Linked DNA regions of Homo sapiens. The protein of the gene in region 2 interacts with the protein of the main gene of each other region in a pairwise test. Each region holds a gene or a part of one and is shown on either strand. Other genes may lie near its edges.

The links.
Region 1: the proteins of TMED8 (region 2) and UNC50 interact in binary tests that used the Homo sapiens proteins (3 or more experiments, as listed by UniProt).
Region 3: the proteins of TMED8 (region 2) and NDUFA12 interact in binary tests that used the Homo sapiens proteins (3 or more experiments, as listed by UniProt).
Region 4: the proteins of TMED8 (region 2) and APOL2 interact in binary tests that used the Homo sapiens proteins (3 or more experiments, as listed by UniProt).

What each region holds. Positions count from the first base shown.
Region 1 is NC_000002.12:98,610,803-98,619,631, reverse strand, and holds the end of UNC50 (protein unc-50 homolog), read right to left. Parts: coding exon 8,737-8,829; intron 3,426-8,736; coding exon 3,286-3,425; intron 3,201-3,285; coding exon 3,099-3,200; intron 1,487-3,098; coding exon of another isoform or gene 1,465-1,486; coding exon 1,328-1,464; 3' UTR 1,117-1,327; downstream 1-1,116. UniProt on the Homo sapiens protein: Involved in the cell surface expression of neuronal nicotinic receptors. Binds RNA.
Region 2 is NC_000014.9:77,373,160-77,382,608, forward strand, and holds the start of TMED8 (protein TMED8), read right to left. Parts: upstream 3,936-9,449; 5' UTR 3,895-3,935; coding exon 3,777-3,894; intron 751-3,776; exon of another isoform or gene 532-750; intron 1-531. Other genes in the region: SAMD15 (sterile alpha motif domain-containing protein 15), read left to right, coding at 4,260-5,948, 7,224-7,322.
Region 3 is NC_000012.12:94,971,427-94,980,255, reverse strand, and holds part of NDUFA12 (NADH dehydrogenase [ubiquinone] 1 alpha subcomplex subunit 12), read left to right. Parts: intron 1-8,635; coding exon 8,636-8,816; 3' UTR 8,817-8,829. UniProt on the Homo sapiens protein: Accessory subunit of the mitochondrial membrane respiratory chain NADH dehydrogenase (Complex I), that is believed not to be involved in catalysis. Complex I functions in the transfer of electrons from NADH to the respiratory chain.
Region 4 is NC_000022.11:36,224,578-36,230,225, forward strand, and holds the end of APOL2 (apolipoprotein L2), read right to left. Parts: intron 3,704-5,648; coding exon 2,827-3,703; 3' UTR 1,632-2,826; downstream 1-1,631.

The DNA.
Region 1 (8,829 bases), on a different chromosome or scaffold from region 2:
ACAGTACTGTAAGATGCACTGCCAGTAGATTTGATACTTTTCATTTCAGTGTAGGCAGTAATGTTTTCTAAGAAAGATTTAGAAATCAGCAAAGTGTAACAATTGTGTTTCATTTATGGAATGGAAAAACTGAAGTGTCCCATTCAGAACACTTTGGAAAGGTTGTCTGCATTAGGGGATGTTTCTGGAAGCATCCCTTAGAGAAGCTGCCTGAGGAATCTCCTTGCCAGGTTGTACCAGATTTTTTTTTTTCTTAAATGTATTGTATATATTTTCCTTAAAATGTCTTCATTGGCTGAATGATTCCTATCCGTAGTAATATTTTAGGTACTTGTTGGATTTTTAAAGGAAGATTATTTATTTTCAGATTTGCTGCTATAATTGAAAACCTAGTAACTGGTCCTGTTGATTGTGCCTTCATCACTGTTTCTCTGTGCCACGACCGTTCATGTGTATTTGAAATAAAGAAGTTTAAAAAGCCATGTTGAATTCAAGATTCCTTCTAATAAAAATAGGTGAAACTTAATGAGTAGTATTTTATTATTAACTTTGTTAACACTGAGACAATACTAGTTATCCATTTTCAGTTAGAAAAAGGAGTGGATCCTCTATTGGGTTTTGTAAAGTCTCTAAAGAAAGGGGAAAAAAAAGCCCTACTGTTAAGACAGTGATGACCAATATTATGCTGATGTTCACTTTATTATATGTACTATACAGTTCCTAAAATAAGAGTAGCTACCTGGGCCTCTTTGATCTAAAATATTTAGGGGCTATAAGTAAGTTTTTAATGTAGAAAATGCTGCTAATGATGCTTAGGGCCTGAAGTACAGTGACTCCCGTTTGACTGACACTACAGGTTTATAGAGGATTCCGAAGGTTAGAAGGGATCTTGTGGCTTATGTAAGTAAGTATTTAAAATACAGCTAATTAGAAATGGAGATTATGCATCTTTGTCAATAGGAGAGCGATGGGGCTGTATGATTATTCCCTTGTTCTCCAACTAGATGATACTCTTTCAAAAATAATTCATATTGTTTTATGTTTATGTTTTCCCCATGCCATTAGCATTTTACATGTAGCTCTTACATTTGCAAATATTAGAGTGAACACACATGCTTTAGTTTAAAAAATATTTATTATAGAAATGTACATTTAATTAGTTTTAAGGAATGTACCTGACCACAGTGTTAATATATATTTCTTCAAATTTGCAAACTTTACACCTTTAAGATATCTACAAAGATGATAGTTTATTTACAAGTTTTACAAGAAATGATCACTTCACAATACTGTTGACACAGTTACGATTGAATCTTCTTCTCACTTTTTATTTCACTCTGTACTTATAGAAAGAACAGAGAGTATGGGTGAAGTTCCATCCCAGTGCCAGGGAAAGCCCGTAGAGCAGAATCAGAGGTGCAAATGGATACAGAAGAATTACTGTATTTTTCAAAAATGGCAATGCTGGAAAAGAAAGGAATCCAAACTGATTTAAAAAAAAAAAAAAATAAATGACTAATAAATGAACATTTTGAAAGACAGCTTACTTCAACATGTGGGGTGGAAGGGAATGCATATTTTGAATCAGTAAGATGATGCTATTTATGCCCAGAACTAGACTACTCTTCCCAACCCCTCTGTGCTGTTTCCTCCTTGTCTAGGGCTGGGAAGAAACCTAGGAGAGGAATTATTTCAGCACAGAGGCTGAGTGGGACATCATACACTGGACCAAGAGAGGTTAACAATGAGGGAGAAATGTCACAAATATTCATGAAAACAGTGGTGAATTTAAACTTGTGACTGCCTCAGAAACCTCTAGGAGTCCAACTTAAAGTACAGAGATGGATGGCGTTATAGGAAAACATCTTTTAGCTATTTGAGATTTTCCAGTGTAAAGCATTATACCCCCACTTTAAGAGGGTGTGAGCTCAACTAGTAGCCCAGGCTTCAGAAAAGAACTGAAACTCTTAAATATAAAAGTCTGGCTCCAAATATTGATGTTTCTTGCTCACTGCTTAGTTAGCGGGACCCTACCCCATGCATCCCGACCTAAGTATTTCTCATATAGGAAGTTCTTAAACAAACTGAGCTGTACTCCAACTATTCTAAGTGGTATAGGTCGTTACCAGGAGTGTTCAAATAACCACTTAGAGAAACCACAGTGCTGCAGTGTTCTCATCACAAAACACTTTCAAAATTCATTAGAAATGACACAAACATCTCCCCTGGACTAGAGAAAGCACTCCCCAAACAAGGCATTACAATGAAGGGGTTAAGTGTTCCCTGACAAACCAGCCAAGGGGGGAGAGAACCGGGGTGGGAATAACTCCGGAGCCAGGCATAGTCAGAGCCATCTGTATTTACAGTTAGGCCCTAATCATCTACAGTAACAGGAAAGGAAGGGGTAAGAAACGTACAGCGCAGTCTCTAGATTTTATTTGGCTTTATTTAATGGGATCATTTCTTAACATAAATGAAAAATAATATATGTTCCTCATTCATATTAAGAAAAATGAACTGACAACAGGATTTAACAGTAAATCTGCAAACATGTCCTGAGGACAATAAATGTTGGGCCCGATCTTCTGTGATTGTCTACAGAACCATACGGTAATCATGAAAACTAAGAATGGGGCAAAAAGTTATGATTCAAAAGGCTTTAGAGAACTTCAGTTCATAGACCTATGTAACAAGATGCTGGGCCCCACCTTTCTTCGCTCTACCCTCCTGCTGGTAACCCACAACCTGAAAGCATGGGAGAAGAGGAGTGAATGGTCTTGGATTCCTGCAAGTCATCTGGAGATAACCAGTATGGTTTAACATGTTTCCTTGAAAGTATAAAATCTGTTATATACCAGCTAGGCCATTTTCTAGCTGCATGACCATGGGTAAGTTGCTTAATCTCTCTGCCTCAGTTTCCTCATTTGAAAACAGAAACAAACCTGTGTAATTGTCATGAAGATTAAATGAGATAATGCACATAAAATACTTAGGATAGTGCCTGTAAGTGTTCCATAAAAGCAGCTGTTTGTACTACTGTTACAACTTTCCCCCTCTTGCTATGTTCTCAACCAAAAACATTTAAAAAAATTACTTACCACTGTATCCCAGGAAAGTTACATAGATATAATAGCCAACTGCAACCAACCATAAGGTATTTCCAACTAAATATCCAATAAATGTGTCTGTCAGGATAACATCTGCCAGAAGAGACGCAGACCATGAGTCCCTTTACCAATGCATGCAATGAAGACTTGGATAATACTCTAATTAACTGCTACTTACGGTTGATGAAAAAAAGCTGGATAAAATGCAAAATGACCAGGAGTGGATAAAAAGCATTGAGATGCACATCAAAAGCATAGCCCCATTCCACATCATAGTCTCTGCTCTGTCGTTTCACTAAATACTTGTTAGAGATGAACCTAAGAGCAAAATTAAAATTTCTTTCATAATAAAATGAATTCTGTAAATGTTTACTGACGACTTTCTATGCGGCAGACATTCTAAATTCTGGAGATATACCAGTAAACAAAACAGACAAAAATCCCTGCCTTCCATCTAGGAAGGAAGGCTGACAATGATACACCTATGTCAGATGGTATTATGGAAAGAGAGAAAGCAGCAGAGAAATGTGGAGAATACAAACTTGAGATGCAATTGTACATATGAGGGTCATAAAGTAACATTTGGGTAAAGACCCAAGGATAGTGATGGTGCCTGGCAGGCCTGAGGAATGGTGAAAAGACCAGTGTCTGAAAGAAAAGGAGCAAGAAATGAAGCCAGAAAAGAAACAGGGTTGGGCCCAACATCAAGTCACACAGGCTCCATGTCTTACGAAGCCTGTGGCCGTTTTACAATCTTTGGCTTTTATTCCTGGTGACGTGAGAAGCCACTGTGGAGTTCTGAGAAAAGTATTTGACTTAAATGCCTTGACAGAGCCTCCCTGGTGGCGGATCTGAGAACAGACTCCAGAGACAAGACTGGCAGCAGAGACCAGTTAGAAGGCTACTGCAAGGAAGAGATGAGCAGAGGGGCTGGTGGCAGTGGAGGTGCTAAGATGTGGCACACACGATACTCTGAAGGTAGAGCTCCTGACATTATTGGATTGGAGTATGAGAAAAAAATACTCAAGGATGACTGAGAGATTTCTGCCTTGAACAAATGGAAGATGGAGCTGCCTTTAATTGAGGTGGGGCTGGCTGTGGGAAGAGTGGTTTTGAGGTGGGAAGGAGTGTGCGGAAGTTTGAATTTGGACCTGTTATGTTGAAGATGCCAACTAGTATGGAGTAAGAAGTTGTATACAATGTCTAGAGTTTAGAAGACAAGTCCAAACTGGAAATATAAACTCATCAGTGTGTAGATGATATTAATATTTAAAGCCACGGGCCTGAATGATGTCACCAAAAAAATGAATGTGGATAATGAACAGGCCCAAGGCCCAAGACCTGGGTCAACCCCCTATTAAAAGGAGGATGAAATAGTAAGAAGCAGTTAGGAAGAGTGACGCATCCAGCCATAAGAACAATTATTCAAGTGTATGTCACTGTTCTACAACATGGCCTACTAGTTTTTCAGTTCAATGATGAATAAAAAGTAAAATATCCAAGTAACAGAAAAGTAAGATCTTCAAAGAACAAAACTTGTATTATAAACATATATTGGAAATTCAATGTATTTTTTAATGTATTATTTCATTTCATCTCAAGGGTACAATTAAGAATACGCTATTCCGTCACTGGGGATAAAAATGGAAAATAAACAGAGGTACAATACTAATGTTAACAGTCCCTGCATTTCGTTATCTGAAAATGCCAAAACAATACTGAACAAACTAGAGCTTACCAAGACAGTTTCCTTTTTAGCCAAGAATGTGTGCCATTCAAATTTTATGGAATCAGTATGTAGCTCGCTCCCCAAGAGCGCCCTTTCTGTAGACGTTCTCTGCTGCCCCTATTCTCCCGCTTATCCCAAATGGGCGCTTTTCAAGCTTCTGGCCTCAGTGAGAGTCTTTCCTCTGAAAGACAGATGTGCCTTCCGAGAGCACTCCAAGGCACTGTGGTTTTCACCTCCCAGCTCCATATTAACGCCAGTCAGAGGCTCATCATGGCCCAGACTCTTGCCTCTAGGTCTAGAGTCATCAACCTCAGTGTCTACTGACCTTCTTTTCACTCTTCAGGAAGCTCCCTGAACTCAACAGGCCAGCAAGGGCTGCTTCATCTGCATCTGCTGCTTCCTCAGTCATCTAAGCCAAAATCTTACAGGTCATCCCAAAGGAGCCTCCCACCCACTCCCTCTTCCTGATCCCCCCTCATACCTTGTTATCTCAGGAAGCTCTCGAATCCATCTCTCCTCTCTATTCCTATCACCACCATACTATCTGGGCCTCCTCTACTCCTACGCAGACCTCTGCAAGTGTATCCAGCCTTGCCCACTCACTACTCCAACTTTTGCCTCCTCCACTGCCATGGAAAAGATAGTGTGAGTTTGACATTATTTCCTTACTTTAAAGCCTCAAAGCTCCCCACCTCCTTTTGCCCCCAACCCACACATGCAGTCTATGAGATAAAGTCCAATTTTTTTCCTGAATGGCATGAAGGCCAATTTCTCTAGTCACATCTCTTCCCCAGTGACTCGGTGTCACCCTATGCTCCCAGACCTAGTGTGCTGTTCACACCTCTATGCCATTGCACTTGCAATTCCCAGCACCAGGAGTCAACTATTCCCCATCTCCACAAACCACCACCTTATGCTGGCTTCTGTAGCTCCTCTGTGATGGTCATCATTACATGTAGTCATTTCTCTTTCTAGTTCCTCACACAACATAGGTTCTCAAAAATACACTGAATCCCTTTCTATTTAATTCAAACTATGATACAGACTCACATGAAATGTGCTAAACTCCAGGCTGATTTGGTCCCCTTCTGTGCCTGATATTGTTTGGCTGTGTCCCCAAAATCTCATCTTGAACAGCAATCCCCAGAATCCCCACGTGTCAAGGGTGGGGCCAGATGGACGTAATTTCCCCCATGCTGTTCTCGTGATAGTCAGTGAGTCTCACAAGATCTGATGGTTTTATAAGCATTTGGCATTTCCCCCACTTGTACTCACTCCATCCCGCCACCCTGTGAGGAAGGTGCCTGCTTCTCCTTTGCCTTCTGCCATGATTATAAGTTTCCTGAGGCCTACCTAGCAATGCAGAACTGTGAGTCAATTAAACCTTTTTCCTTTATAAATTACCCAGTCTCAGATATTTCTTTATAGCAGCATTGAGAACAGACTAAGACAGTGGCCTCCAGAATTACTGCATTCAGGGCAGAATGCTTGTTATGAATGAAACTATTCCTTTGAAAGTCTTATTTATTGAAATTTTAAAACACACCATTTGTTTTTCATGAATTTCTTGGTAATGAATACGTGACTTACATTAGTATTAATTCTAGGCCAGATTTTAGAATTTTATATTAACAGTGGACAGCATTTATTGGCTAACTAGCACATACAAAAGCTCTGCTGTACTAGTCAGAAGTTACAAAGGAAAATACAGGCATATGTCATTTTACCACACTGCACTGTACTGCGCTTCACAGAAACTGTAGTTTTTAAATTTTTACGTATTGAAGGTTTGTGGCAACTGTGTCCAGCAAGTCTGCCTGTGCCATTTTTCCAGCAGCATATGCCCACTTCATGTCTCTGTGTCAGCATTTTTAAGCAATAAAGCATTTTAAATTAGTCTGTACATTGTTTTTTAGAGCCATAGTGCTATTGTACACTTAAAAGACTACAGTACAGTGTAAATATGATTTTAATATGCACTGGGAACCAACACATCTGTGTGACTCAGTTTATTGTGATATTTGCTTTACTGCAGTATCTGGAATGGAACTAGCATATCTGAACTATGCCTGTAAAAGGGTGGTATTGGCTGGGCGCGGTGGCTCACGCCTGTAATCCCAGCACTTTGGGAGGCTGAGGCGGGAGGATCACCTGAGGTCAGGAGTTTGAGACCAGCCTGGCCAAATGGCAAAACCCTGTCTCTACTAAAAGTATGAAAATTAGCCAAGTGTGGTGGTGTGTGCCTGTAATCCCAGCTACTCAGAAGGCTGAGGCAGGAGATTCGCTTGAACCCGGGAGGCGGAGGTTGCAGTGAGCTGAGATCACACCATTGCACTCCAGCCTGGGTGACAGAGTGGGACTTCGTCTCAAAGAAAAAAAAAAAAAGGCTGGTATCAGAAGTTATAGTTGCAGAGTTTTGCTTAAAATATTAGTAACTACCAAATATTGAACACTTAACTGTGTCAGGTAATTTTCATAACATAATTATCTCAAAAATTGGACAGAATAGGTAATTAACTAGATTTTGTAAAAGAAGAGACTGGGACTAAGAGTTTCACAGATAACTAAGTTGGCATTTGAACCCAGGTCTCTCTGCAACTAAAATGTTCTCCACAATGACCACCATGTCTACCCAACCACTGGTCCTCTACTGAGATCGCTAGCCACATCCCCTGCCCTTCATCCAGCATGCCAACCACACAGGAGGACTTTACCAAACACCAGATTTATCCTCAGTACACTGCTGTTGCTAAATCAACCAAAGTCAGACTGAGAACCCTTCTGATAAAGCCCGTGTGTGTGTGTGGCGGTGGGGGGGCGGGGGGGGCGGAGGGTGTGTGTGTATGAGAGAAAGAGAGAGAATTTTATTCTCAGTAGGAAGGCATGAGAAGTTTAAAAAAAAAATCCTTCTTTTTCAAGTATACTTCATTTAATGCAAAGATTCAAAGTAAGACTCCACAAAATAACCCTTTAGATCTAAATGGATTTAAACACAATGAATATCAAGAAGTGGTCTCTATTGACAAATGCAGAAAACCATGCTATCATCCAGACAACTTAAGCAGAACTGGCTAAATCTGTAATATTTTTGCAAAACCAGGCATTTTGTTAGTATGCAGAAAATAAATCTCGGGACCCCAAAATCACTAAGCCAAAGGGAAAAGTCAAGCTGGTAACTGTGTCAGGCAAACTTGCCTCCTATTTTATTCCTAAGATAGCTTATCTTTACAGGTGTGGGACAGAAAGTCCTCCTTCTACTCACCTGAGACAAGTGTTTATCTGATTGCTTCCTCTGCCCCATTGTTTATGTAAAAATGCAGACTCACTGAGCCAGATTAAGGCATAAATGACTATTCCTGTACCTGCCTCTCACAAGTAAATTGTGTATTCAGTGAAAGGCAGATCAAAGACTCAAAAGAATGCAACCATTTGTCTCTTATCTAACTGTAACCTGCCTTTCCCCACTTTCTGGATTAAAACAATGTACATTTTACACATATTGACTGATGTCTCAAGTCTCCCTAAAATGTATAAGAGCAAGCTGTGCCCCGACCACCTTGGGCACATGTCATCAGGACCTCCTAAGGCTGTGTCACAGGCATGTCCTTAACTTTGGCAAACTAAACTTTCTAAATTGAGACCGATCTCAGATATTTTGGGTTCAAAACATAATTATTTCAATTATTTGCTACATTTGACAATATTATAAACCAGCCTTTATAGTATTTTCTGATATAGGTGGCAACACAGGAGGGAAAATTGTAATAATCTTGGCAGTCAAAATTGATCATTTAGTAACTCTACCTGGGTTTCAATTTCCATCTGCTGCTATTGTACCTCTGAAGCAAACAAATGGAGATGCTACAGCAGTATCTGAAAAACCAAAGTTATGGTACTTACCACATTAAAGTTGCTATCAGAAGACCAACGCCTACACAATCTATGAGTACAACCCAAAGGAGAAGCTTTATTGTCTCAAAGAATCCCATGTCC
Region 2 (9,449 bases):
CCTTAGAACCATGAACAAGTTTACCTGACCTGTTTCCATCCTCAACATCTAAATGTATTGATAGCTCTGGGGGACATACACACCAAACTAAGTTCTACTGCTGACTTCAGGATCACAATAGAGTTTTATTTTCCTTTAAACTTAAAAAAAAAACAAAAACAAAAACAAAAAAACCTGCCTTTAAGTGATGCAACAAGTATGCCTCAGATAGTTTCATAATTAAAGAATGATTTATCTCTCCTCTGGGGAACTGAAGAACCCAGGTGCCTCAAATAAAAGACTATTAAAAACAATTACAATGCATAAAACAATAAGAACACCATGACCACTGGAGAGCTTAGTTCATAAGAACATAAATCCTTTCCTTCCTTTTCACCAAAACCTCAGCTAACAAACATGAAGACACTCAATAGGTATTCTCTGCAGAGAACACTTTTAAAAAACAAGTTATGGTTATTCTGGATAATGACACATTCCTGCTTTGAAGGAATAAGATACACCAAAAAACCAAAACCCTTAACTCAACAATACCTGATATGGCTTGGATGTTTGTTCCCTCCAAATCTCACGCTGAAATGTGATTTCCAATGTTAGAGGTGAGGTCTGGTGGGAGGTGACTGGATCGTGGAGATGAATCCCTCATGAATGATTTGGCATCATCCTCTTGATGATAAGTGAGTTCTCACTCAGTTAGTTCACCTGAGATATGGTTGTTTAAAAGAGTCTGGGACCTCCTCCCGTCTCTCTCTCTCTCACTCCCAACTCTCGCCATGTGACATACCTGCTCCCCCTTTCAGTATGATTCTAAGCTTCTTGAGGCCCTCACCAGAAACAGATACCAACACCACACTTCCTGTACACCCTGCAATACCATGAGCCAATTAAAACTCTTTTCTTATAAATTACTCAGTCTCAGGTATTCCAAATGGACTAACAGAACACCTGAATATCCAATTCCATTTCTTACTGCTGTTTTCTCTCTGAAAGGGTGAGAGAAATCTCATTAAATTTCATTCTTTCTTAGAGCTCTATTGCTTACTCATTGTATCATTTTCTAGAGGAAGATGGCAGAAGGATCCAATCAAACGAATTCCAAGTTTAAAGCAGTTTTTTGGGGTTTACGCCCAAGCCTCTGGTCCAGGCCAAATATAGTATTTCCACACTGCTTTGGAAGCCCAGCTTAACTCTAACACAGCGTTCCCAAAAGCAGCACCACTGACATCTGGAGCCAGATACCTCCTTGTTATGGGGATTGCCCTGTGCCTTGCAGGATGTTTAGCAAACATCCCTAGCCTATCCTCACTAGATGTCAGCAATAGCTGCCACCAGTTGTGACGAGCAAAAATGTTTCCAAACATTGCCATGCCCTGGGGATACAAAATCGTACCTGGTTGAAAACCATTGCTCTAACCCAAGGAACATTCTTGGTTATCTCAACCCTAATTCTTCACATTCATTAGATGCTCATCCAGATCTCTGCATTCAGACTTTCTCTCACCATCAAACTCAGCAAATATTTGCGAAACCTCTAAAACACAACATCAAGGGCTCTAGATAAATAAACAAGCAAGAGAGATTCCGTTCCTAACTCCAAGCAGGTTTCTTAGTAGATAAAGAATTGTAATAAAAGACGCCCAATTATATAATGTTTTGAATTGTTAATTGTTTCTCCCTGAAATGGATCTCTCATCTCATCAAACTGAAAACACCTTGAGGACAGAGACCATAACCTGTCTGCGAGTACCAATACTTGATTCATGGCCAATAAAAACAAACAATTATAGACTTCATCATAACAAGATGACAATTTCATCCAGACAGTAAAAACTTGCGCTAACTTGAACAGGTAAGTTAACCTTTCTCAGCTGTAGTTTGTTCCTCTGTAAAATGGGAAGAAAATGATTGTTGACATGACTAAATCAGAAAATATAAATTTTTTTCCACCTCTGGCACAGAATAAGCATTCAATATCTGTAGGTTATCATTACTATTATTTTATTAGCAACAAATCCTACCTCAAGAGGAAGAGCTTGCTCTGGGCTACTATAATAAACCCCTACATGACATTAAAAAAAAAAATTATCACCCTGCATTCTGAGGGTAAGAGGAAGGAAAGTAAGCATCTCTACCAATGTCCTGGGAGGAAGTGAATGCAGGAATGAATTAGATGTCAGGGGGAAAAAAAAACACACTCATCTATCTAAAACGCGTGGGTACGTTTGCCATAAACACATGAGAACCTAAAGGGGAAGTAAAAACATGCTTAATTTGTAAATACTGGCGCATGCAAGGGACAAGTGTTATAAGACTTACCTTTCTGTGTTTACTTGCTTAGTCTTTTAGACATTATGCTTAGAATTTCTACTGCTATGTTAAATATATGCCAACGATTTTTAATTTAATACAAAGCAGAGTTCGTAAGAAAAAAAGGCAAAATTTGTCAGGTGTTTTAAAGTAAAAGAATATAAAATCATGGGAAAGAGCTGGGTGAGTTGTGTGTGTGTTTGAATAAGGCAGCATTATGAGAGGGAAGATACTTGGGATCAGAGTAGAAGACAGAAAAAGGCACCATGTTGGAAGCCATACATCCAAGAACACCTCTGGCGGCACAGGAAGTTCAACTGAACAAAAAGAGACCTTACTGTCACAATGGTTGAGACGAGTATAGTGTGTACCATGGACTATACCCCAAATGCCTTAGACAAAGCAGCTCAAGTAATCCTCACAATAATCCTATGAGGCAGATATTTTTAGTAATCACATTTTACAGATGAGGAAACTGACGTTTCAGACTCCAATCCAGGCACCCTGGCTCCACAGTAGTGCCTCAACCATTATACTTTATGGTGTCTATTTTAATTTCAGACCTAGAAAATTAATTTATATTTGCTACTTAAATAAGACAAGTTCTCTCCCCTCTACCCTTTCGTATTTCAAAAGAGCATCCTTTCAGTTGCATCGTGTGTGGTGTTCAGGAGGCTGAAAGAAGAAAGTGTGATGGATGGACTCTTTTGTCTTTGGACACTGAAATAATACACACGGAGGAACTCGCGTTAGTAGAAATGGAGACGTCGTCCTGGACAAGAAGAGGATGAGGGTCTTGAGAATGAGGGAGGTAGGCCAAATTTTTAATTCCTGCTCTTGCTTTGGCTACTGTGTTCAAGCAAAAGACCCCAGACACTACCTATTTCAACTCTGCTTTTCATTTTTCCCACTCTAAGCGATGGAGAGGATGGCAGCAAGGCCAGGGGGCCTATGTGCAGGAAGGCTAGGGCGCAGTGGGCTTCTGGCAGAGGAAGGCAAGGCTGCCAACCCGGGTGGGGGCCGAGAGGCGCGTGGTAAGGCTGGGGCAGGGGACTGAGATGGGGATAGGGTGGGGAGCCAGAAGCAGGGGGCGGCGAGGCCAGTAGGGTTCGGGTCGGCAGTCTAGATGTGATTAGCAGACGGAGGTGGGACCCGAACCCCGGCTGAAGCTGAAACTGAAGCTGAAGAGGCGCCAGGGGCAGAGCCACCCTGTCACTACCATTTGGGCAGATCTCAGAAAGGAAGCGGGGCAGGAATCAAGGCATTTCGAAACAGGAGTGAGTAGAAAATAACCTCGAGCCCAGGGCCCGGGTGGTGGCAGCGGCGGGGAAGGGGCCCCGCGCGCGAAGGGGCTGCCGAGGTGGGTCCGCTCCGCGGGGAAGCCCAGGACAGAGCGCGGCGGAGGCTCGCGCCGTGGTGCGGGGCCCTGAGGCCGGGCGGCACCCACCCGCCAGCGCCCCGGCCTTGCGTACCTGAGGCGGCCGCCTGGCTCCCCTCCACTCCCTGGCAGTCCCCGACGCCGCCAGCCGACCCTGGGCGGGCTGTGGGGCTCCAGGAGCCCGGCCCCTCAGCCGCCTGCAGGTCAGACATCTGCAGCCCGCGCACGGAGCTCTCCGCTGCCAGCCGCGAGTGGCTCCGGAAACAGCCGAAGGCCGAGCGAGCGCCGAGCACAGCCGAGCGCAGCCTGCAGGCCGGAAGAAGCGGCGCGGCGGCCGCTTGAAAAGCTAGCTGACCCAGGGGCGGCCACAGGAGCTCTGGCCCGCTGAGGCTGGCGATGAGGCCGCAGGGAGGGTTACTGCGTGCTTGTGACAGACGATTTTTAAAGTCAGGGCTTGAAAGAACAAACAAAACCTGGGGAAGAGTCAGGAAGACACTGCCGGAAATCGTGGTATCCATAGAGACGCTATCGGAAGTTGGGGTTGCTAGGAAGCCGCGGCGCGTCTGCTAAGCTGCAAATGGCTGAAGTCCCGGAGGATTATGATTCCGGCCCAGATGAAGATGGAGAGCTGGAGCCTGAGAGGCCTGAACTGCCTGGACTTCATAAATTGTATGAAAATGCCGAACCAGACACCATGGCAAAGGCAGACTCGAAGCTACCAGCAGAGATTTACCAAGAGCCACAGCCAGAGACCGAGGAAGAGGACTTCAAAGAGGGGGAGCCAGACAGTGCTAAGAACGTGCAGCTGAAACCTGGCGGGACGTCCCAGGAAGGAATTGCCAAGGAGTCCAAGAGAGACGTACCAAGCGAAACTGAACCAGGGATACACCAAGAGGTAAAGTCGGAAACATCCAGAGAGATGGGAGAGTTTTTCAAAGATTTGGAGGCCCCTATGGATGAAACGCATAAAGAGTCAGACCTAGAGCCACCAGAGGAGGCTAAACCAAATGTTACAGAGGATGTGTTCCTAGAGTCAGCTATGGAAACAGATCCAGATCCAGTGCCACCAACGGAAACCATGTCTGAGGTTTCGGGGGCCACAGTCAGAGAGAGAAATTTAGAATTACTAGAGGAGGAGACTGAACCGGGGGTTCCAGAGGAATCACTTAGAGTGCAACATGAAGAGACAGGTCTAGAGCCTCCAGAGCAGACCAAACAAGATTTTCCAAGTGAGAAACTAGGAGAATCACTTGAAGAGACAGATCTTCAGCCACCAAAGATGACCAAACCAGAGACTCCAGAGGAGACACAAAGAGAGTCAACTGAGAAGAAAAGGACAGAGCCACCCGAGCAGGCTAGACTGGAATTTCTGGAGAAGGAACCAAGAAAGTCTAGTGAGGAGGCAGGTCTAGAGCCTCCAGAAGAGACTCAACCAGAGGTTCCAGAGGAGATGCAAAGAAAGGCAACTGAGGAGAAAGGGACAGAACTACCTGAGCGGACTAAACCAGACTTTCCAGACCACAAGCCAAGAAAGTCTACTGATGAGAACGTTCCTGAGCCACTAGAAGAGATCAAATTAGAGTTTCCTGAGGAAGAATCAAGAAAAACAAATGAGGAAACAATTCTAGAACAATCAGAAATGATGAAACCAGAAAGTCCAGAAGAGATAAGAAAGTCAAATGAGAAAAAAAATCCACAGCCACCAGAGGAGACTGGTCCAGTGCTACCACAGGAGATCAACCCACAAGTTGAAGAGAAAACACAAACAAAGCCAACTGAGAAAATTCTAGAGTTACCAGATGAAACCAAACCAAGGGAGACACATGTAGAATTTTCCAAGGAAGACAGGCCAGAACCAATAAAGTCTAAGTATTCTGTAGGAAACGATGAGCTAGAGCACCGTGAGCCTAAAAGAGGAAAGTTGTCACTAAGTGACAAATTTAGAAAAGAATATTACGCATTAGGATCTCTCAGAGAAAGTGAAGAATCAATTGGTACACATTATGAGTTTTTGCAACCACTCCAAAAATTGCTTAATGTCAGTGAAGAATGCTCATACTCAGATCCCTCAGAGTCTCAGACAGAATTAAGTGAGTTCGTTCATGAAAAGGAAGTTGTAGATTTGTCCCAAGAGTTGAAGGAACGGGTCTCTGAAGATGACGAAACCCAGCCAGAAAAAGGGACTGAGTTACAATTTGAGCATCTTAATTGGGATCCAGAGGAAGTTGCAGAGTGGATTAGCCAGCTAGGCTTCCCTCAATACAAGGTATACAAAAATAAGATGTTTTGAAATCACATGCTGTCATCCGTCTACTTCTTATTCCTTCTAACTTGGCCTGAGCTCTTACCTCTTTACCGGAAGGAGTATCAAAAAGTCCTAGACTGTGGTAGAGGTAACTTGGATTTTAATTTTGGCCTTGCCACTGATGTATATTTGTATTTTGGGAGAGGAAGGGAGGGTCACATCGGTTTGTTTTTCCTCTTCCAGTGATTACACTTCTCTGCAATCCTTGAATAAAAGACCAAGAAGAGTATATAGACCTCCTTTCTTTTTTTTTTTTTGAGACACAATCTCGCTCTTGCCAAGGTTGGAGTGCAGTGGCACGATCTCGGCTCACTGCAAGCTCCACCTTCCCCAGGTTCACGCCATTCTCCTGCCTCAACCTCCTGAGTAGCTGGGACTGGGACTACAGGCGCCCGCCACCATGCGCGGCTAATTTTTTGTATTTTTAGTAGAGACGGGGTTTCACTGTGTTAGCCAGGATGGTCTCCATCTCCTGACCTCGTGATCCGCCAGCCTCAGCCTCCCAAAGTGCTGGGATTACAGGCGTGAGCCACCGTGCCCGGCCTTAGACCTCCTTTCATAGAAAACTGTATTTTTAAGTAGACTTTGTTCAAGGTAGGCTTTTTGGTACTTTGTCAAGTTATTTTAGTGGCAGCTCCCTTGCTTTGAACTTGTGCTATTACTTTTTAAAGTGTCTGCCCCAAATATGTCACCTGTATCATGAGCACTTAAGTGTATTAATTCAAGTTAGCCAGTTAACCAAAACTAGTTTTAGTAAAAAGTCAGTGTAAACCTCTTGTTTCACTGATGCCAACTAGGTTTAAGGCTACCACAAAACAATACAAGATCTGAAACCTTTTGTACCTACTATACTTACAAATGTAATTGAGACATGAAGAAGCACTGGTTGTACCATGCCCAAAAAAACAGTTAAAGAGCAGTGTAAAATTTAATAAAGAGCTTACATGGAAAAATTGTGCCGTTATTGGGATAGAAAGTAAATTTAAGCTACTCAGGAGGCTGGGGCAGGAGGACTGCTTGAGTCCAGGAGTTCGAGGCTGCAGTGATCTATGACTGCAGCACTGCACTCCCGCCTGGATGACAGAGTGAGACCCTGTCTCTAAAAAAGAAAAAACAAAATAATATTTTTTTCTCAGGGTAGAACAAACACGACTTCTTCCCTTCCTCCCCCTTCCCTCCCTTTCTTCCTTCTATTTGCAGTACATTTTTTAAGTGATGTCCTTGTTGTATTGACAGGAGTGTTTTATCACAAACTTCATCAGTGGCCGAAAACTCATTCACGTCAACTGCTCAAACCTCCCTCAGATGGGGATAACAAACTTTGAGGACATGAAGGTGAGTTGTGTCCAAAGTTTCCCTACAGAGCACTGTTAACAGTGCCACCATCTGTCTCAAACCAACCTTTTTTTCCTCCAGCCTGGCCTCCCACTTCTGTCAATGGTGTCATCATAATTCCAGTTCCTCAGGCTCACGGTGGTTGCCTCCTCTTTCTCCTTTGATCCCCATAAATATTCCAAGAACTGTCCATTGCTCCTGTGGCACTTACACCGTCTGGCTTTCTTCATTCCCACTTTTCAGACCTTATGGCCTCATGCCTAGAACACCACAGTGGCCTCCCGCTTTTAGCCTGTCTCAATGGACCCTTTGGATTCAAGGGCCCTGCTTTTATGCTCTCACTTTCCACCTACTTATGTACTATTCAAAAACCTTCTTTGGATCCCTTCTGCTTACCAAGATAGTCTCCACTCCCTAGTTTAGAATTTAGGGCCCTCCACAAGTTCTCTCCCCTACCACTCCTCCACATGAATTTTGTGCTCCAGCCTACCACCAGGTCTAACACCTTCGCAAACCTGCCTGGTGCGTTCTTCTCTCTATGTCTTCGCTCAGTTCCCCCATCCTCTGTATTACTAATATGAATCTTAATCATCCTTCAAGACCAGTTCCTCATTTGCATCTCCCCAAGAAGTCTTTTGTAACATTCCCAGCCCACAGTAGCCCCCATCCCAAGTTCTCATGACATTTTGTGTCTCTGACACCCATTTGGCACTTATATAACACCATATGTATTTTGCCTGCTTTGCTGCCTAACTTTGAAACAAGCTACATTAACCACTCTGAGCATCAATTTTCTAAAATCTCCAGCACCAACAGTTCATGATTATTCTCCTTTGCATAACAGTACCCTCCATTTGTAGTGCTTTGCAATTTACAAAGCATCACAAACAATCTCACGTGTAACCTCTCCTTTAGTACCCCACCCCAATAACCCTCCAAGAATGGACAGTTCTTGGCATAACCATGGTTTTGCTCAGCACACCCATGCCCAGAAATGTACCACCTCAGTGGTTTCCAAACTTGGGTCGTCTTCAGAATCAAATGAGATTTTTTGAAAAAGATACATTCCTAGGCTTCATCCTCCAGAGATTTTGATTCATTAGGGCTGGGTAGGCCCTGGAATCTCTTCCCTAGATGACTCTTCAACAGGCCTTATAACCCTAAAATTCCATAAGTCATATGGTTTAGAAATAAGAAAACTATGCTTGTTAATACCTGAGTCCTTTTACTAGCAAGAAGATATAACGAAACTTTTTAAATTATTAAACATACAGTCCTAACTGAGCGTTTACTTTCTTAAATTCTGCTAATAGCTATGCTTTGCTGAGAGCTTACTGTGTTTGGGGCCTCTTATATGTATTATTTCACTAATTCCCATTTTATAGAAAACTGGGGCCCAGAAAGGTGAAACAACTTAACAAGCTATTCAGATAATACGTTTTTTCTGTTTTTTGTCTTTGTTTTTGTTTTTTTTGAGACAGGGTCTCGCTCTGTCACCCAGGCTGGAGTGCAGTGGTGTAACCTTGGCTCACTTCAACCTCCATCTCCTGGTTTAAGCGATTCTCCTGCCTCAGCCCCCCAAGTAGCTGGGACTACAGGTGTGCGCAACCATGCCCAGCTAATTTTTTCTTCTTGTTGTTTTTTTGGGGTTTTTTTTTTTTGAGACCGAGTCTCACTCCGTTGCCCAGGCTGGAGTGCAGTGGTGCGATCTCAGCTCATTGCAACCTCCACCTCCCGGGTTCAAGCGATTTTCCTGCCTCAGCCTCCCGAGTAGCTGGGACTACAGGCGCGTGGCACCACGCCCAGCTAATTTTTGTATTTTTAGTAGAGATGGGGTTTCACCGTGTTAGCCAGGATGGTCTTGATTTCTTGACCTCGTGCTCTGCCTGCCTCGGCCTCTCAAAATGCTGGGACTACAGGCGTGAGCCACCGCACCTAGCCTAATTTTTGTATTTTTAATAGAGACAGGGTTTCATGATATTGGCCAGGCTGGTCTCAAACTCCTGACCTTAAGTGATCTGCCGGCCTTGGCCTCCCAGAAGTGCTGGGATTATAGGCATGAGCCACCACGCCCGACTTATATTCAGATAACAAGTTTAAGAGCCAGGATTTAAGTCCATCTTGTGT
Region 3 (8,829 bases), on a different chromosome or scaffold from region 2:
TTTTGGACATAGTAAGTGTGTGATACCTGTTGTGAAATCTACATGATTAGATATATATCAAGTAAACAGCTGAATATACAAATCGAGCTTAGGACAATGGTCAAACCTGCCAAACCAGCAAAGAACAAGGTAAGTAGCTAGCAAGGTAGGAGGAAAGGGAAGAAAGAGGAGTATTTCAGCCAGGGAAGCCTCGTTGTATTGATTGTTGCCAAGAGGTTGAGGAAGATGATGACAGAAAAATGTCCGTGTGATTTGGCAATATGAAATTCATTGAATCTACATAGAATCTGTTCTTGAAAGAAATGAGGAGAGATCAGAAAAGTTTGAACATTCTAGCAAAGGAGAGTGATCCACATAGCCCCTAGTAGACATGCACTGTCAATATTGGACATAGTTCCATTAATCCTTTTTTTTTTTTTTGAGACAGGGTCTTGCTCTTGTCACCCAGGCTGGAGTGCAGTGGCATGATCTCAGCTCACTGCATCCTCCACCTCCCAGGTTCAAGCAATTCTTGTGCCTCTGCCACCTGGGTAGCTGGGATTACAGGTCCCATGACCACACCCAGCTAATTTTTGTATTTTTTTTTTTATAGGGGTGGGGTTTCTCCATGTTAGCCAGGCTGGTCTCAAACTCCTGGCCTCATGTGATCCGCCTGCCTCAGCCTTCCAAAGTGCTGGGATTACAGGTGTAAGCCACCTCACCCCGTCCCTTTTTAATCCTTTCTGTGTAGTTGTGTTCATAACCATACTCCATTTTACTTGCTTTTTTCCATCAATATTATAAGCAATTTTTCATGTTATTAAAACAATCCTTATAATCACCATTAAAAGATTTTTTCTGATTATAAGAATATACAATTGCTATAGAAAATTTGGAAATCTGGAGAATTATTAATATGAGGTAGAAACAATTCTTTGGCCCAGAAGCAATACTGTTAATATTTTATTCACTGATTCAACAACTATTTGAGGGTCTGCTTTTGGGTAGAGAAAGAATGTTTTGGGGGTGTTTGTTTTAGAGGTGGGGTCTTGCTCTGTTGCCGAGGATGGAGTACAGGAGCTATTCACAGGTGCAATCATAGCACACTACAGCCTTGAACTCCTGGGCTCAAGCATCCCCCCTGCCTCAGCCTCCCATGTAGCTGGGACTCCACAGAGGAATGTTTTTTAAAGACCACAGTGTGAAAAACTGATTGTAGTTTATTGGTCACACCTTCTTTAGAAGAAAGCTTATTATTATAAATAACATATACCTACACATTTCTCATATAATGTATACAACATTTTCTGACTTGCTTCTCCCTCCCCTCACTTAATATGTCACAGACATTTTTCCTGTCTCACTAAATACTGTGTCAGTTCGAGTGTTTTAGTTTCTGTGGGGCTTTTGTATTTAGAAAGGATTGTTGGGCAATTTGGATTTAAAATTAATATACTATTTATTATAGTTGCAAATTTAAAAACCTAATTGTTTTTCATTCTTGAGGTTCAATTTATAAATAGGATAAAAAGATTAGTAAATTGAATTACTTTTTGCATAAAAATAAGGAACAATCATTTTCTCTTGTTCTTTGATGAATGTTCGGTAAACTCTAATGGAAAGGATTACATTGTCCTAAACAGTAATACCCATTTGCAAATTTAGTTAATACATCTCTTTAAGCAGTTTAGTCACATTTATAAATTGAACATATTTGATATTTGAGTTTTTTCAATTCTTCAAATCCCCAGTGCATAGGCAGATTAACCTATCAAGCAAAATGTTCCTAAGCACTTAAATGACTCTTGTTTACTCAAGCCCAAAACTTCAGTGTCATCCCCCAGTCTAATTCTCTAATGTCCAGTCTGTTAGCAAGTTCATCCTGCTTTCGTTTCTCCATATATCCCACATCTCATCACTGCCTCTATGACTGTTACCCTAGTCCAAGGCACAATTATCTCTTGCCTGGACATCTACAGTCACCTCCCAACTGGTTTGATAACATTCTTGCAGTGCACTAGCGTTCCCAACATGCTAAGTGATGAGAGTGCATATTTTTAAATGTAAATCAGACACATCAAGTCTCTGCTCAGAATGACCCAGTGGCTTCCCATCACAGTGAGAGTAAAAACCCCAACTCCTTCCATGCTCTGCGAGGCGTTATGTGATCACAGTCTGCATGCACTGTCCTAGTCACAGCCCTGTTGACTCTGACTTGGCCACATTGGCCTTCTTGCTTTTCCTTGAACAGTGAACATACTCCCAACTCAGTCTCTGCACTAGCTGTTTCCCCAGATTTGGCATGGCTCACACACCTTCACTTTATTCAAGTGCCCATCTGGTGGCTCTTCAGGTGGTCTAGTCTATAAGAGCCCTGTTCCCTCTCATACTCCATACTCTTCCCCTGCTCTGGTTTTTTCCTTGATGGCACTTAACTACCTCTGCTTAACATTTTTTTTATATTATTTAATTTATTGTATGTTTCCCCAAATACCATGTTGGAACAGTGCCTACCACATAGTATTTCTGCAATAGATTTTTGTTGAATGAATGGATGTACATATACATTTTACTTGAAACAAACATTATTTTTTGGGTATGATAATCAGTTTTCTTCACTTTAGCTGATCCAAAAATGGCATCTTCTGCTACTCCTTTATAGCTTTCTAATGAATTTGAAACTAGATTTACCTCTGAATTACATTGCAATTTCAACCTGTCCTTTTTAGTACTTTGACCCACTGAATCATTTGTTACAGTTTTGTGGGGTTTTTGGGGCAGGGGCGGAGGGGTGTTTTTTTTTTTTGACACAAGGTCTTGCTCTGTCACCTAGGCCAAGTGTAGTGCCGTGATCATAACTCACTGCAACCTCAAAATCCTGGGCTCAAGCTATCCTTCTGCCTCAGCTTCCTGAGTAGCTGGGAGTATAGGTGCATGCCACCACACCCAGCTAATGTTTTTGTTTTTGAGAGAGAAGGTGTCAAACTCCTGGCCTCAAGTGATCCTCCAACCTTGGCCTCCCAAAGCACTGGGATTATATGTGACAGCCACTGTGCCTAGCCTGTTACAGTCTTCTAAAATATTATTTCTCTAAATAAATTGCTAGCTGTCAATGGCAGATAATATTTTCTTCAAAGTAAGTCCTTCCTAATGTTTATTTTCTGCTCCAGAAAAATCAGAATATTAGGAGACTGTGTTCTAAGAAACTACAAACTGCATTAATTGGGTAGTTTCTCTTATGTTACAGAATGTTACTTTTCTTTATACCCTTTCTCTGTTAAAATGTGTTCATTATAAGCAGAAGACAAGATTGTTTTGATTTTTAAAACTCAGCTTTTATTTAACACATTTCACTGAGTATTCATTGCTTCATTTAATATTGATTCTAACATTTTACAAAGATGCCTTGTTGGAAAATTCCATATGTGGAATGTGGAAATAAACTATGTATTACTCTTGGTGAATGAGGAACTGCTCAGCATGTTCATTATAGAAAATTCAAAAAATAACAAAAGAAATAAGAATAGCCTGTTATCCCACCACTTGTAGAAACCACTGCTATTAATATTTTGATACACATTTGACCTTCAGTATCTGTGGGTTCTGCATCCATGGATTAAACCAACATTAGATGGAAATTATATCAGAAAAAAGTTCACAAAGTTCCAAAAAGCAAAACTTGGATTTGCTGTGTGCCGAGTATTATGTTGAATCCACATGAATGAAGTCATATGCAGACATCATATTAGGCATTATAAGTAACCTGGAGATGATTTAAAGTATACAGGAGGTTGTGCATAAATTATATGCAAATGCTACATTTGCATATCCACAAATGATCATTTGTGGATTTTGGCATCCACAGGGTGTCCTGGAATCAATCCCCCATAGACACTAGGGACAACTGTTTATTCTTATCTCCTCGATTTCTATGCATATATATTCTTTTGTTTTTGTTATTAATGTAATTGAGCTTTTTGAAGAAGTAGCCTGGGTTTGCAAGTTATTTTAACTTTTGGCAGCCTGGTTTTCTCACTTACTATATTTGGATAATAATATTTATCACGAGTTGTTATAAGGATCAAATAGGTTAATATTTGTAAAGTGTATAGATTAGTGCCCATGACTTATAAATGCTATCTATAAGTATTAAATAAATTAGGCAAATAACCCGCTTTTAAAACATATATGGTGAACATTTTCTCAAGTCATAAAATATTCTCTGTCTCTCTCTCTCTTCTCTTTTTTTAGAAATGGGATCCCCCGCTGTCCAGGCACGATCATGGCTTTCTGCAGCCTTGAACTCCTGGGCTCATGTGATCCCTGCCTCAGCCTCCCAAGTAGCTAGGACTACAGGTGCCTGCCACCATGCCTGGCTAATTTTTGCATTTTTTGTAGACATGGGGTCTCATGTTGCCCAGGCTGGTCTCGAACTCATGGCCTCAAGCGATCCTCCCACCTTGGCCTCCAGAAGTGCTAGGATTACAGGTGTGAGGCACCATACCTGGCCAAAATATTATCTATAGCATAAATGTTAATAATGCCTTAGTCTTCCATCATATGGATATGCCATGAGCTATTCCCTTTATTTTTGGTTTTGTTCTTTCCATTCTTTCACTGTTATAAATAAAGCTCTGATAAATATCCTTGTACATGAGTATTCATATCCTCATTTCCTTAAATGGAAATGGATCCACCAGGAGTATACATGTTTTATAAGTTTTTGATACCTGCTGCCAAATTGCCCTCTAGAAGGGCTATACCAATTTATATTCTCAGGATAAATATATTGAATAGTATATGAGTACTGATTTCTCTTTAAGTTCACTGATTCTGGGTTTTATTTTTTAAAATCTTTGCTAATTTAGCAAGTAAAAAATTATACCTTAATGTGCATTGCCTTGATTAAACTTCATTGTTTGCCACTATAATTTTTTCTTTGTTGACATCTCTTGATGTTTTTTGTCCAGTTTTCTATTGGATATTTGACTTTTTCTGATTTGTAATGATAGATGAACCTTTTTTCTGTATATTACAAATATTTTCCCCTGTTTCTTTTAGTCTTTAATCCTGTTTATAGTGTTTTAGGACATACACTTTTCAATTTTAAAAACAATTTTAATTTTTTGGGTACATAGTAGGTGTATATATTATGGGGTGAGATGTTTTGACACAGGCATGCAATATGTGATCATCACATCATGGAAAATGGGGTACCCATCCCTTCAAGCATTTGTCCTTTGTGTTACAAACAATCCAATTATACTCTTTTAGTTGTTTTAAAATGTACAATTAAGTTATTATAGACTATAGTCACTGTGTTGTGCTGTCAAATACTAGGTCTTATTCATTCTTTCTGACTATTTTTTTTTATACCCATTAACCATCCCCACCTCCCCCTAATCCCCAAACCAACCCCACTACCCTTCCCAGCCTCTGGTAATCATTCTTCTACTCTCTATCTCCATGAGTGCAATTGTTTTGAGTTTTAAGTATCACAAATAAATGAGAACATGCAATGTTTGTCTTTCTGTACCTGGCTTATTTCACTTAACGTAATGATCTCCAGTTCCATCCATGTTGTTACTAATGACAGGATGTTGTTCTTTTTTATGGCTGAATAGTACCCCATTGTATTTAAGTATCACATTTTCTTTACTCATTCATCTGTTGACAGACACTTAGGTTGCTTCCAAATTTTGGCTGTTGTGAACAATGCTGCAACAAACATCGGAGTGCAAAAGTCTCTTCGATATACTGATTTCCTTTCATTTAGGTTATACCCAGCAGCATCATTGCTGAATCATATGGTAGCTCAATTTTTAGTTTTTTGAGGAACTTCCTAACTGTTCTCTATAATGGTTGTACTAACTTACATTCCCACCAACGTGTTTGAGGGTTCCCTTTTCTCCGTATCCTCCCAGCATTTATTATTGCCTGTCTTTTGTATAAAAGCCATTTTAACTGGGATGAGATAATATCTCATTGTAGGTTTTTTTTACTGCTCCTTGTGGACCAGAGCGGTAGCCTTAATCTCAGCACTTTGGGAGGCCGAGGCGGGCAAATCACTGGAGGCCAGGAGTTCGAGACCAGCCTGGACAACATGGTGAAACCCCGTCTCTACTAAAAATAAAAAAATTAGCCCGGCATGATGGCATGCGCCTGTAATCCCAGCTACTCGGGAGGCTGAGGCAGGAGAATCACTTGAGCCCAGGAGGCAGAGGTTGCAGTGAGCCAAGATATCACCACTGCACTCCAGCCTGCGCCACAGAGCAAGACTCTGTCTCAAAAAAAAAAAAAAAAAAAAAGACCCAAGAGTCTGTTTTGCAAGTAAAACTCTCTGGTGTGGCAATCTGAAAGATATGATTTTTTTTTACCCCTTATTTAATAATAAAATAACAAGGGTTATATTTGCCTAGCAGACTATAAACATTTCCTTATTTCTTATAATTCTTTATAAACTGCCATAATGGGTATAGTTTATTATTTATTAATTCCCTGATTCTTGCATGTAGGCTTGCTAGGATAAATATTTTCAGATTTTGTGTATTGTGATAAAAATTATCTTTTCCTTTTTTGGAGCATTTTCCATTTCTCCATGAGCTCTTCACTTCCTCACTTAAGTAACTGAATAGGCATAAGCTTGGGACTATGGTTCCTTAAATATCATTTTAACCTTCCGGAGTCTTGACAGCAATTTTTTGAATAAAATTTTTCTTTAGTTAAGCTGACTCAGTGAGGTAAAAGTTAAATATTTCAGCTGTGCCGTAAGCTCACATAAAGCCCCTTGATAAGTGACAGCCTTGACTTTAACAGCTAATCCCTCCTCTGAGTGGTTAGTGGAGCCTGGCTCACCACTATCGTCTCATAAGGGCTTCAGCGCTCGTGTGCTCATATGAATGGTTACAGTTTATTGGTCCAGGTCACTTTCACTAATCCCCAGCTTCCTTTAGAGGATGTAAGACAGACACTGACCTAGCTTGTACAGCCTTCTGCATTCTTCATTGTATAAGCTGATCATGATACAATTATCTTTAGACATAAACATAGCAACTGTAATCATATTTTATCTCTATTCAGACTGGTTTTTAGTCAGTTACCTAGCTATATCTATCAATTACTGCTAGCAAATATTCTTAGGTTTACATAGCAACAAAAATTTTTTCTCATTAGCTTTAGTTTTAGTTATTCCACTGAAACATCCTCCTCTTGTCCTTTTCTCTGCAGCTAGATAATCACTTTTCCCCCCACCCCCGGGCTGCAGTTCTGTGGCTGTCTTCTCATTTTCTTTTCCCCCAATAAGGTCATCTCTGTCTTGTGAGCTCCAGGTCTTAGAGGCTGGGACAAATTCTGTCTTCCCTTCTTTCCCATGTAAACCCCTCAGCTTAGCTTCCTGCACTCTGTCCCACAAACTTTGATTCCTCCTTTCCCTGTCATTAGCAGCAGCATCGGTGGTCTCTTCCCTTTCAACTCCAGGTATCCAGCTTTTAGGTCTGATTTCTGGAACATATCCTCTTAAATTGTTAAGCACTTATGACTGAAATATTTGTGAATTGGGGGTCGATTTAACTTTTTTCTCAAGACAGGGTCTCACTATGTTGCCCAGGCTGGTCCTGAGCTTCTGGCCTCAAGTGATCCTCCCACCTCGTCCTCCCAAAGTGCTGGGATTATAGACATGAGCCACTGTGCCTGGCCCTGATTTAATTTTTTAATATAACAAGTTGCATATTCTCTAGTGTTTACACTCACATGCTTGAATTTACAATGCATCAGGCTCTTCTCAGCAGGAGCCTCATGGGTTTTAAACTAAACCTTCATGAGCCAGAGTAACCTGAGCATACTGAAAATCCAGAATCGGCCTCTAGCACCTAATAGTAATACTGTATTTTTATCAGTTCTAAAATGCATTTCCACGTCTAAAATTAGGATACATATTATAATCAGTAGTGGCCATAATTTATTTGGTAGCATCTTTTCTTTCTTAGAGGTAGATAAAATCATGGCATGTCTGAAAATGGATAGTGTCAGATTTGATAAGATACAGTAATGGGCCGGGCATGGTGGCTCATGCCTATAATCCCAGCACTTTGGGAGGCTGAAGCAGGAAGATCCCTTGAGCTCAGAAGTTTGAGATCAGCCTGGGCAGCATAGTGAGATCCTATCTCTACAAAAATCTTCTGAAAGTCAGCCAGGCATGGTGGTGGCATGCTCTTGTAGTGTTAGCTATGTAGGAGGCTGAGGTAGGAGTATCACATGAGCCCAGGAGTTCGAGGCTGCAATGAGCCATGATAGTGCTACTTCATTCCAGCCTGGGTGACAGAGTGAGACCCTGTCTCCAAAAGAAAGAAAGAAAGAAAACGAAGAAAAAAAAATACAGTAATGAGAACGGTAGCTAACATTTGTTGCGTATCTGCCACACACAAGAATTTTTCTATGTGCTTTATGTCTATTATCTCCTTTTATGTTTATACCATCCCTGAGGAGTAGGGATGTTCAGATGGAAAAAATCTAAGGCATAGAAGAATTCAGCTAGTAACTGATGGAGTTGAGGCTTGAACCCAAGCAACAAAATAGTTCCAGGGCTACGTTTTTAACCGTCCTTCCACTATGCTGTACTGCCTCTTCATAACTGTTTGGGTTTTTTCCCCTCTTTAAGGCATCGTTGGCTTCACAGTATGACTGATGATCCTCCAACAACAAAACCACTTACTGCTCGTAAATTCATTTGGACGAACCATAAATTCAACGTGACTGGCACCCCAGAACAATATGTACCTTATTCTACCACTAGAAAGAAGATTCAGGAGTGGATCCCACCTTCAACACCTTACAAGTAAAGACAATGAAGAA
Region 4 (5,648 bases), on a different chromosome or scaffold from region 2:
GAAGTTCAGCCTGAGGCAAGCCCATGGGGATAAAGGCCATGGATAAAGGCCTCCCTCTCTCCTCCCTGGAGACAAAGATTCTGAGGACGCTTCTTGAAGGCACCTCGGAAGGTCTCATTGCCCATATGGATGACCCATTCAAAAACTTCTCCTTGTATCAACTTTTCCTCCTTCCCTCCTGGATCCTCAGTTCTGCTCCTAGAATCACTTCCCACACAAACCCTCTACACCAGAACGTTGCCCCTGGCTCTTCCTTCACAGGACCCCAGGCCACAACAGGCTACTTTAGGCAGCATCATGGCCTACATCTTTGTGCTAAGAGTAATGGGAAGCCATTAGAGGGTTGGAAGCAGGTGCTCAATCAAACCTATGTTCTTAGGTGGGCATGGTGGCTCATGCCTGCAATTGCAGTCCATTGGAAGGCCAGGGTGAACAGATCACCTGAGCTCAGGAGTTTGAGACCAGCCTGGGCAAGATAGGGAAACCCTGTCTCTACAAAAAAAAAAAAAAATACAAAAATTAACGAGGCATTGGGGTACACACGGATGGTCCCAATTGCTCAGGGAGTCAAGGTGGAAGGATAGTTTGAGGCCGGGAGGTCCAAGATGTGGTGAGCCATGATTGTGCCACGGTTTGCCAGCCTTGCAACAGAGTGAGAGTATCTGAAAAAAAAAAAGAAACTATATTGTTAAAGCCCAACCTGGCCCAGTGTGGAGCATGGTCCAGGACATGGGAGGGACAGGGGCAGGGGCACAGAGAAGACCATTCTGGAAGTTCTTGCAGGAGTCTGGGCAAAACGTGAGGACAGACTGGATGGGAGTGTTTGCTGTCTGGATGTCTCTCTTTGTCCCTCTATTTTTCGCTGATCCTCTCCCAATCTGCACACAGGCCCCTCTGACACTAGTTAGCCTCGAGTGTCCCGTGTCAATCCCGGGCTCTGACTCACAGATGGAAACCACACCTGTGCTCAGCCAGAGCCAGACATGTACAAGCTTTCCCCGAGTGCCCCAATGGGCTTGGGGTTTTGAGGTCTCAGGGAAATGACCAGCTGGGAAAGTGAGAGTCCAGTGAGCGAGCAGAAGGGGTCTTGAAACTTCGCTCCCTGAGACCCTGGAAGAAGGATCATGAGGAAGGTTAAGTCAGGCACCCAGAGCCCAGGGGAGCCTCCATCGGCACCACAAAGTCACAGCCATCAGTCAGTGCTGATTGACTCAAGTCTCCAGAACACAAGATGGGGAGAGCAAGGTGGACCTGAGATATCACCTTTTCCAGCCCCCTTCTACAGCTGATGAGGAAACTGAGGCTCAGAGGGGTGAAGTCTCATGACCACAAGCAGGGTTGAACTCCTGGACACACCTCAAGCTTCCTTGACCTGTTCCTGGCATCTCCTTTCATTTTTCCTTTCTTCCCAAATTAACCTCTTTCCAACACAGCACTTCAAGTTCCCCTGGAACTTCATCGGTCCATCGGTGTCCCCTGGTCTGGAAGAGCACCGACCACTTGCCAAGGCCCCCACCACTCTGCTGCCATCACAACCACCATCACCACCATTACGAGAAAAACTTGAGACTGATGGCCCCCAAAGCTTAGAAGGAGCTGAGAGACCAAAGAATGACTCGAACAAGTCCAGCTTGGTGAGTAGGTGAGTTTATTGGGACTTACACACAGGTCAATCCTGGGCAGCGACAGGACAGCTCTAGAGATCTGTGCTTCCTCCCAATGCTAAACTGCTTTCATGCTAATCTTCTGACTGTTTACTTACCGGCTAAGAGCGATGGGACTGTTTTCATTGGTTGGTTCTCAGATACTCTCTGGGAAGTTTGGGTTCTCAGGGACACCTGCTCCTCAGCTGGGGATTGTGGCCATGGCCTACCACCTGCCTCTCAGGGTTCAAGCAGGGGACATGCACCCTTTAGTAACCTGGAGGGGACCCGTCACATGACAACCACCCCAACCACCATCATGAAGAAGCCACTGGCTGACTGTGATACACCCCCAGAAGGACAAGGGAGAGTGGATGCTGGAAAGACAGAGCGAGAGACCATCACCAGGGAAAGACTTTATTCTTGGAAGGACATCAAACCTGGGGGGGGGTCGGTAGTGGAGCTGCTGTTTCTTCTCCTGTATCCAACAGTTCTAACTCTGGTTTTCTCCATTTTCAGCTCTTTCTTTTCCTGGCCTTCTCATTGCTGGTTCCTGCAAGCTCCCCCTCTATTCTTCGCCCAATATATTCTTTAGTCCAAAGTAAACTACTTCTTCCCATTCCCCACACTCTCCAGTCCTCTCTCCTCCCTTATTGCAGGCTCCAGTGTTCCTGCCTTCTCCTTGGTGCACTTGCCATCTGCATTAACCCCTCCCTTGCTGTGCTCAGCTACACAAATGCCAAAGTCACTAACACTCAGTTCCATAAGCTTTACCTTGCCCTCCTTATCCCCCTAATAAAATGTCTGCATTTTGGCCAGGCGCGGTGGCTCACGCCTGTAATCCCAGCACTTTGGGAGGCCGAGGTGGGCAGATCACGAGGTCAGGAGATGGAGACCATCGTGGCTAACACAGTGAAACCCCGTCTCCAGTGAAAATACAAAAAAATTAGCCGGGCGTGGTGGCAGGTGCCTGTAGTCCCAGCTACTCGGGAGACTGAGGCCGGAGAATGGTGTGAACCCGGGAGGCGGAGTTTGCAGTGAGCCGAGATTGAGCCACTGCACTCCATCCTGGGCGATAGAGCGAGACTCCATCTCAAAAAAAAAAAAAAAAAAAAAAAAAAGTCTGCATTTTGTCCTGGCCTGTGCCCGGCATTTCTGCCCTGGTGGCTGCACTGCTCTGGGGTCATTGGTCTTGGCCTGGCTGCAGCATCTCATGGATCTTGGTGAGAAAGTTGAGCTTCCCCTCCAGCTCCTGAGCCCGCTTCTTCAGCTCCTCAGCTGACTCTGACTTTGCCCCCTCAAGCAAGTGCTTTGACTCATATGCAAGGCTGACCACATCCAGCAGAAGCAAGATGCCTCCAGTGGCTGCACCCACGATCATGGTTCCTCTGCTCATTGCCTGGGCGGGGCCTTCAACAACCCTCTCAACCTGTTCACCGCCTTCAGCTGAGATTCGCCCAATGACATGCGGGGGTGGGGCATACGCTCCTAACTGAGGGTTGGCTCTGGCTCGTCTGATGGCACGGATGTTCCTCCCAATCCCTTGTGTGACTTGGTACCAATTGTCAACTAAGGTAAGAACATTGGGTGTGTTCCCACCCACAAACTCCTTCATCACCTTTGCTACATTGGTGCCGCTTTGGTCCAAGTTGCGGGCTTGGGCTCGTGCCCGCAATTTGTTTACTAGTTCTACCACACTGCAGGTAATCCCAGCCACAGCAGCTGCTGCTCCCAGACCCATGCCAGTGTCCAAGAGCACAAAACTGATTCCTTCTGTGAAGGGTGCCAGACCCAGGCCGAGGAGGGTCAGGATGCCAGAGGTAGTGCCAACAGAGTTGGACACCACATTGGCAATGGTGGTGCCTCTGTGGACCTGCTCAACCTCCTCTGCAAGGGCACGGAGCTTCCTTATGTGATCCTCAAGCTCCCTTTTCAACCGAGGAAACTCTTTCAAAAACCACTGCCTGTGCTGCTGGTCTTTATCGTGGCGGTTTTTGTCCTTCATGACCATGTGACTTGCAAGCTTGTTCAGAGCTTTACGGAGCTCATCTGCCTCATCCCTGCACAAGGAAAGGTTAAAGGATTAAGAAATGCAGTTTCCCTATCTGTGAAATGAGCTCCATGCGATCTCTATCCTGTGTAAATTGCAGAGCTTTCACTATCAATCAAATAGAAACAAATTTTACAAATGGAATTAATTATCTTTCAAACTCAAACACATTTTGTTCATCATAGATATTCCTCAGTACTTATTCCATATGGAAATAAATATCTTAAAGGCACCTCAGATGCTCTTTCATGGTAGGTGTTTGATAAAGATGCCTCCTCACTCAAGGGCAGGTCAACACCGTGACTGCCAAAGTGTTTGGAGAGGGAAAACTCTGCAGATGAACAAAGAGCAGTGAGAGTGAGACAAAGAGACCTTATTACCAGGATGGCAGGAAAGTGAAGCATGAACTTTACCCAAAGAGAGGCCTTCCCTTTGTCCTCAGCTCCTGGGAAGTGATCTCCAGGCCCCTGGAATGTCCTGCCTGGTAGGAACATCTTTCTTTGCCTGGTGATTTGGCCACGGGACAGTATAGCGATGTGATGGATGATAGGGTTTGGGGCTATTTGGTGTCTTTCCTGACTTCCAGAGGACTTGGGGACTAAAGGTGTGAGATCTCAGGGAAGGGCTGGAGACTCTAGCCATGAGGGCAGCTTGTGATCCAGCCCCAGCAGATACTCTGGACACTAAGGCATGGGTTGAGAAAGAAGGACTTTCTCCTTGACCAACTCCAGCTGGGCTCTTCAGAGCTTCTTCTCCACTAGGCGCCGACCTTGGCCTTCCACACTCACCCACTGCTTTCTGGACTTGCACCACCTTGGCTCAGCAAGAATCTCCCCAAATCAGTTTAGGGAGGGTCCTCCCCGCTTGCTGTCTGAGCACCGTTTGTTATCTGATCATGCTCCTCACCCCCACCACTGGTGGTTGAGGGTCTGACCTGCCTTTGGCGAGAATCCTGTTAGGCCAGTTTAGCAGGAACCCCCCACTCTGGCGTCTCCTGTCAGTCCTGTTCCATCTCCCGCCCCCACCCTGGTGTTGGCTGTGACTCCCCCTCTGTCTTTACTATATTTGGAGCTGGGCTCAGTCTCCCTCCCCTGTAACAACAATCCTGAATAAAGGCTTCATTTCTGGTTTAATGTGATTCACAGGAATTTTTCCTTAACTGGGTGAGCTTCCCTGGTTGGCAACACCGCATGTGTTTTGTCCCACATTCACACAGGAGAACACAGCCTCCTGAGGACAATGAAGATTCACACCTGAAATCCTCCCAGACTCTGCCCTGTGTGTCTCTTCCTTAGGCTGATTTTAATCTGTGTTCTTTCCCTGTGATAAACCACAATCGTGCAATAGCAGTTTTCAGTGAGTTACGTGAGTCCTTCTAGTGAATTATAAAATCTAAGGATGATTTTAGGAATCCCCATAGATTTGCAGGTGGTGTCAAAGGTAAGGGTGCCCTCAGACATTGCAGTCTGGCTATCTCTGAGTACTTTGAATTCAAACAAAAACAAAACCTCAGAAAGACAGGAGATCACTTTGCCTGGCATCTGCTCCCTTCCAATGCCTCATGCCCTTTCACCTGGCTGAAGGCTACTGGGTGCGGCCACTGCCCCAGCTGACTGGAGTGGGAGATCTGGCTATTCATTCTGGCTCCACATGGACGCTCCAGCCACCTTACTGCCTCCTGACCTACCACCTGCACCCCCAACCTTCCAGGTCTCACTCGCAGGTGTCACCAGCCTAACTGATGCCTTAGCAGTGACAGCTTCACCTGTGTGCACAGCAAGGCCATGTGCAATTTTATGGAACCACTAGAAGACTCAAGACACTTTCAGAACCATCTATATAAATTGCTAATGCTGAAAAGACCTGAATTTGGTCAAGATGGTAGAGGAAGTGTTTTCCTCCTCGGTTGGGACTTTGTGAGTCTGCTCAGTACCCCTGAAATTACACAAATTGGC